Linked DNA regions of Homo sapiens. Changing the gene in region 2 together with the main gene of any one other region gives a genetic interaction. Each region holds a gene or a part of one and is shown on either strand. Other genes may lie near its edges.

Region 1 (3,657 bases), on a different chromosome or scaffold from region 2:
AATACTTCTTTTTTAAATGCTTTTTTTCTTTTTTTTTTTGAGACAGAGTCTCACTGTCACCCAGGCTGGAGTGCAGAGGTGCAGTCTCTGCTGACTGCATCCTCCGCCTCCCGGGTTCAAGTGATTCTCCTGCCTCTGCCTCCCGAGTAGCTGGGATTACAGGCACCCACCACCACACCTGGCTAATTTTTGTATTTTTAGTAGAGATGGGGTTTCACCATGTTGCCCTGGCTGGTCTTGAACTCCTGACCTCAAGTGATCCTCCAGTGTTGGCCTCCCAAAGTGCTGGGATTATAGGCATGAGCCACTGCACCCAACCTAAATGGTCTTTCTTAACTCTGCCAGCTATGTTGTACTAAATTATCCTTGACAACATTTCTTCAGTGCCTGCTCTGAGCAGTGGATGCCAATAGGATAAGGACAGATTAGCATAGACTGCAAAATTCACTTCCTCAAAGAAGAACATAATGAAGAAGCCATTACAAAGACGGCCGACCAGTACTTGATTATGGAATATAAAATTATTACAGATTGAAAGGATGACATGGAAAACAGGATGAATTTATCAAGAATCAAAGAAATAATAGCCAGAAAGATGAACAGAGAAACAGAGAGGTGTAGGTGCTAAGGAGATGGAAGTCCTGGATGATTAACAATGTGGAACAACTGGGGAGAAGGTTTTGAGAAAAAGAAAGTATAAATTTAGTGTTAAGATTTTGTCAGGAGTGTTTCAGACTGATTGAAGGAGACAGTAATCAGAAGTTTTTAAAAGATTGTAGCTGCCCACTCCCAAAATAATAAGAAACAAGGAATTTGTAAAGAGATAGGAGAGCAGGAGAAGTTGTAGGTGTAGCCAGCATCATTGGTGGGGTACGTGGGTGAAGGGTTACTCTTACGATTACATGCTTTGAATATGTCAGAAATGATTTGACTGTCCTTGATTATAATAGGAGCTAGGAGAAGGAGAAGCATTAAGTGAGACTCAACAGAGGGTTAGATGGGCCATGTGACTCATGCCCCAAAAAATCAGAACTTAAAAATGGAGAAATCAGTTTGTAATTGAAAGTTTCTCGCTGCAGGGTGCCCTAGGGTATTTGACCAAAAGACTGGGTAATTATTACTTCAGATTATAATAATGTTCCACCTATCTGGGCAACTCGAAACACATGGAAGTAAGAGGAAGAGTTGATCAGGCCTGCCAGGAACTATGGCACTCAACTCATTAGAAAGCAGAAAAGTAAAAGTGAAGACAGTAATGAAAAAGCACTACATGCCCACCACCAGAATAGCTAAAATTAAAAACCTTGACCATTCCCAGTGCTGATGAGGATGCACAGCAACAGCAAAGAGCCCTCTTGCGTTACTGGAGAGCATGCGTTAGCACAGTCACTTTGGAAGGCAGTTTGACATTTTACCTACTAAAGGTGACAGTATAAATACCCTTGGACCCAGCAGTGTCACTCCTAGTTATATATCCAGCAAATACAGTCACATGTGCATCAAGTCATGTGCAAGAGTGCCTAGAGCAGCAGCATTTGTAATAACCAAAAAATTGGAAACAACCCAAATGTCAACCGTAGAATGGATAAATTTTACTGTATTCATACAGTGAAAACAAGTGAACTGCTGTAGCTACATAAAACAGCATGGATAATTCTCACAAATCATATTGAGTCAAAGAAGCCAGACACAAAAAAATAACTACATAACTCAATGCATATAAAATTTAGGAAACAGGCAAACTAGTATTTAAGGATGCGTGCTTGGGTGGAAAACGTGTCATAAAAGTCAGGATAGCGGTTCCCTTCAGGAGAATGAGAGAGAGAGAGAAAGTAGTGATTGAGAGGGACACAAAGGAAGATTTCTGGGGTTGGTTTGTTTCTTGACTTGAGTGGTATTAAATATGTAATAATTCATTTTTGTGCTTTTCTGGGTGTGATGCTTCACCATAAAAAAGGTTAGAAAGTGACAGGAGTGAGGGTGGAGGGCAAGAGTTCCCTCCAGGTCCTCTGATTTCCCCTGACCTTGTTCTAACTTCTCTGCCTGCCCCCAAGAAGCCAATATAGAAATTTATTTTCCCATGGCACATCAGTCCTTCATTTAAGTAGTATTAAGTGGAATTTTAAAAAGCCATGTACACCCCTGCCCAATTATCTGACATCTTAAAGACTTTTACTAAACTTCAGTTATAATTTATTTGAGTTATAAAGATTGATGGAGATGTATAGTTGGGATCCTCATCTTTAGTAGAGGTATACATCTTAATCTTCTTGCTTAGATTGTAAACTTCATGAGATCTGGAAATGACTTTCTTTTAATCCCTCCTGTTGCTTACTATATAATAAGTGTTCAGCAAATAGTCAAAAGCATCGTTCTTACAGGGAGGTGTAAAATCAGTAATTTTCTTAATAGTTATTGGTTTTATTGCTCAGTGTCTATTCCATACCAGACGTACATTTAGCCTGTAGCCATGTTCATTGAATGTTAAAAATGATGTTGCTGTACAAAATTTTTAATTCCATTACCAAGCCTATTTCCTATGTTGATTTTTGCCTTAAAGATAATGCAACTGCACTTGCATATGTCCTCCTAATTATGGCTAGTCTGTTTTGCTTTGCTCAGTTTTGCTTTGTTTTTAAGTTACTGGAGTTTGGCTAAAATTTCTAATTAATTACCTCTTTCTTTCCCATTCAAGACCTTTATCTCCAGAACTTTAGGAAATGGAGTACTGAAGTCATGGACATTGTTTTAGGTAGCATATTGTCAGGAACTAAAGGCGCTTTACTTGCCCTGTGACATCGCCTCCTGGTTCAAAAATCTGTGGTTTAAAAAAAAAAAAATCTGTGCATTCTATCTAATACGCCAGAAAGGTCCTTTGTATTCAGTTTCGCATGTAATTGCAGACTGAACTTTTAAAATTTAGCTTTATTATAAACAAATGCATCTCTTATATACCTCACCACTACAGTCTTTATTCTAGCTAGCCATTTAATTTTCTCTTCATACTTTGAATCAGTATAATCTGTCTATAGACTCCCTGATGCTTTGTTCCTATGATAAAGTTATTTATCTGAGAAACATTATTTTCTGTAGTGAAAGGCACTGAAAATCTGTAGCTTCCTCTAGCTGTTCTTTGAACTACTGTAGAGCACTTACATTTAAAAACTATTTAGGTAAAATTTAGTTAGAGATTTCATAGAGTTTTGTCTAATGGATACACTTCCCGAAGTGATCCTTGGGCCAAGCTGAATGGATTTGACTAGGGTCAGGACAGACTGCTTCCAAGATAATTTCTGTTTGTCATGACACATAGTTCACTTTTCCTAAATTGAATTGTCCTATTCCTAAGTGAATTACTTCACTCATCTGCCTAGTCCCTGAGAAGCATTTTGTTTTATAGATTTAGTCAATCAAAAACCCTAAATAACTCTTTTGGGGACAGGCAAATTTAAATACCTAAGAGAAATTTTGTTGATCATTGTAACCCTTTGTGTCTTGCTATGTTTATCCTGGTTACATATTTTATTTGTAGCCTTAATATAATGAAGAGACCTTTCCTTTTTTTTTTTTTTTTTTGCCTTGGACTCCTGGGCTCAAGTGATCCTCCCACTTCAGCCTCCCAAGTAGCTGGAACTACAGGCTCAAGATAACATGCCT
Region 2 (3,657 bases):
CCACCCCCTCATCACGACCCCAGTCTTCTTCACAGGGGCATGTGAGAGCTTCTGTTCTCCTTCAAGCCACAGGCTGGCCAGCTGTGGGGAACTGTGTGTGTGTGTGTGTGTGTGTGTGTGTGTGTGACTGAGGGGGAGAGAGAGAGAGAGAGAGACAGACAGACAGACAGACAGACTACTTCAGCCTCTGTCTCCCTGTAAGCATGCCACACTGCCTTTGCTTGTCTGCAGCTGTCATGGGTGGTTGGAGAGCACCATGTTCCTTTGTGCGGGGTCTCCCCTCAGTTCCAGGTGTACAGTGAGGCAGAGCTCACTCTGCTGTGGGTTTCTCCAGCCTCTTCAGGTTCTCTATGCACCTCCAGGATTTCACCTCCAGGGGCTGTGCCGGGGAGCAGCTTAATACCTGTATCACTTGTGTCTACTCTAAACTCATCCCCTCTGCTGGTCTTCCAGGTCCTCTAGGTCCTTATTTGGGATGGGCTTTAATTTCTTCCATGGGTGGCAGGAAGCAATTTAAATCACATCCTGCAATCTTCCTCTTTCAGGACTCATATTAAAAACTTGCTCAATCATCAATGTTTTGGCTCATGATCTCTAAAGGGAGATTTTTTTTTCCTTCTCACATGAATGTTTGTAGTGAAGAGAGGAATTTTTAAAATTTTCTTATTAACTTTGAATTTTGATCAGATTTAAAGTCATAGGAAAAGTACAAAGGATTCTCAAATACTCTCTATCCAGAGTCTCCAAATGTTAACATTTTACCACATTCTCTTTTCTCTTTCCCTCTCCACACAAGGACACACATATACACACATACATGCACGATTATACATATAAATCAGGAAATGATTATTTTGCAATTATCTATAGGCTTTATTGAGATTTTGCCAATTGTCCCTCTAATATCCTTTATAGCAAAAGAAAAATCTCAGGCTATGCATTACATTATTGTCATACCTTTTAGTCTTGGTGTTTTATGACACAGGCATTTTTGAAGATAGTAGGCCTATTATTTTGTAGCATGTCCTCTAGTTTGGGTTGGTTTGTTTCTGCTCGGTTAGGTTCAGGTTATGAGTTTTTGGCAGGAATCCCACAGAAGTGATAGTGTCCTTCTCAATGAATCAGATCAGGAAGTGCATGACGGTGATTGTCCTGATGCTCACAATGTTAACTCTGGCCACTTTAAATGAAAATGGTGTCTACCAGGTTTCTTCATGGTAAAGTTACTATTTTTCCTTTGGTAATTAATAAATTATCTTGTGGGGAGATAGATACTTTGAGGCTATTATCCTATTATTCCTCAAACTGTCACCCACTAGTTTTATCGTTCATTGGTGATACTTACCTGAGTCAGTTATGATGGTTACTAAATGGTTAATTCCATAATTTCTTCTACGTTAATTGTTTTTGAAAAAGAAGGAAGAATTTTCTAAAGGGAGATGTGGAATTCAGAAAATGTTTTTTTTTTCCTCCAAGGGTTAAGCTCTTGCAATTGAATGCCCAACTTTTAAAACTGTTGTCTTTTAAACTCAAAGCCGATTGATGGCACCTTTGTTGTATGTAGTACACACCTCTCTCTGAGGCAATGAATACCACTGGGAAGATGGGCAAAGAGCCACAGGGTCACAAGAGTAATTTCAAATTCTTCTTACCCACCTGCATGACACTGGTCTCAGATAGTCGCTGATCACCTGTGAGGGTTTTCCATATTGTAAATTTTCATATTTTTGTGTCTTTACAGGTGTTTTAATATAAAATTGAGTAAACTGTTATCATAAAGGAATTATGGGATAGAAAAATATATTACCACTTCAGGACTATGATGTAAATGTAACTTAAACTGATAATAAAATGTTGCCAAATTGCTGACTTGCTGAGCCTACTTTTAATGAATATTGAAGACCCCCTAATAATAGTGGTTGCAACAAAAAACTGAAAGTTCAGAAACAGTTTTAAATCTTTTTGTTTTCTAAGTAGTTTACCCCTCTCTCCCCAGGCTTACACCACAAATTTGCTTGATTAACTCATCAAAGATTGTACAAAGACTAACAGTGTAATGTTAACCACAGTTCATAATTCATTATTATGAATTCCAAATTAGGGAATTGGAATTGATGAATTAGTGTTTGTAGCAGAAGTTTTGTGTTTTGAATTAGGTGAATGTGTGTTGAGGGTGAATGTATCTTCTGCCTGCTTCCTTTGTCTGTATCAGCTCATAGAGGGTGTCTGAACTTGGTTTGCTTTCTGGGAGAGGTGGTGGATCCTGTAATATCCTCAAGACTTCCCATATTTTCTGAGGCAAAACCATTTCTGTGCTGCAACCTGGCAGATTCCCTCACATTAGGGTACAGAGACACACTTTTAATAAAACGTTTATGTTAACGGCGTCTTGCAAATATACAGTGTCCGAATTAGCTAATAGGAGAACATAAAAATAAACTACACTGAAACAAAGTTAAGTTGAAAAACACAATGTCCTATCTATCTTCTTTATGGAGGTGCCAAGAAAATACATCAGAAAAGAAGAAAGTTAACTGCTAAGAGTCTCCCAAGTTCTCTCTCACATTCCTTTATCTTAATGACTGATCGCATATTTGAAGTCTCCACCTTGGGGACCTAAAATAAAAAGAGAAAACCATAATTATAGTTACTCAGTATGCATATTCTCTGTATTATGAACATCAAGATTTGGATGCATTATCTCTGGAGAGTTAATGTGTTATTTTAGCACACTCTTACACATCCTTTTTGTGCTTAAGTTCTAGGGAAATGCTGTTTAACTATCTTAGCTTCTGTAGTTTGTTTCATTTGGCTCCTGTATACAAAGGTGATTGTCATTTCTACTTGGAGGTGACATTAACATTGTCTTAAGAAATTTATGTGTGTGGAGGGGACTGAGGAACACTGGAGAGAATATTAAATGTTATCTTTTTAAAACAATTTTGTAGACAACTACTTAATTTATTTTGTGAGCATTGAACAAGTGATTTTTTAAATCAACAGGTCCTTCTCATGAGGAGGAAGACACCTTTTCCTCAGTGTTTCATACTCAAATCCCTCCAGAAGAATATGAAATGCAGATGCAGAAACTCAATAAAGGTATATTTAAATTTGTGTGATTATACACATTTTCACAAGGGAATACTGGCTGTATACAGAAATATTCATAAATGAAATAAGTTCATGTAATTTAATCCAAAGGTAAGTGGAAGCAAGTAGAGTTCAAGATGACACAAGATTGGTTATTGTTGCAGCTAGTTGTTGAGAGTTTGTTATACCATTCTACTTTGGATGTTTGAAATTTTGTATAATAATAAAGAGTTTTTAAAAAAAGCTGGCTGCAAGTAATGAAAACCTGGCTTAAGCAAAAACAAGTCTGTGAAAATGATTTTGGTGGGAGGCAGCTTTCTTTGGTTCCCAAGAGCATATGCTGTGGTTAGTCATTCAGAGGTTGGCTCAGTTCTGCAATCCTAGAGAAGAGCCTGAGTGATCCAGCTGGGTCAGGGGCCTACCCCTGGCTCAACCAACTTGTCCAACCCAGCAAGGTTTGGGGTCACTGTAGGAACATGGCAGCTATGTCAATACCAGACTGGAGAGGAGAAGAGGACATTTCCAGTGAAGACAGTTCTGGCCAGATAACCCAATGTGTTTTCCCTA

The links. A genetic interaction does not mean that the proteins touch.
Region 1: changes in FSIP1 (region 2) and SPPL3 together harm fitness less than expected from each alone (positive genetic interaction), as found in Homo sapiens cells (one large-scale study listed by BioGRID).

What each region holds. Positions count from the first base shown.
Region 1 is NC_000012.12:120,785,834-120,789,490, reverse strand, and holds part of SPPL3 (signal peptide peptidase-like 3), read left to right. Parts: intron 1-3,657.
Region 2 is NC_000015.10:39,741,247-39,744,903, reverse strand, and holds part of FSIP1 (fibrous sheath-interacting protein 1), read left to right. Parts: intron 1-3,003; coding exon 3,004-3,099; intron 3,100-3,657.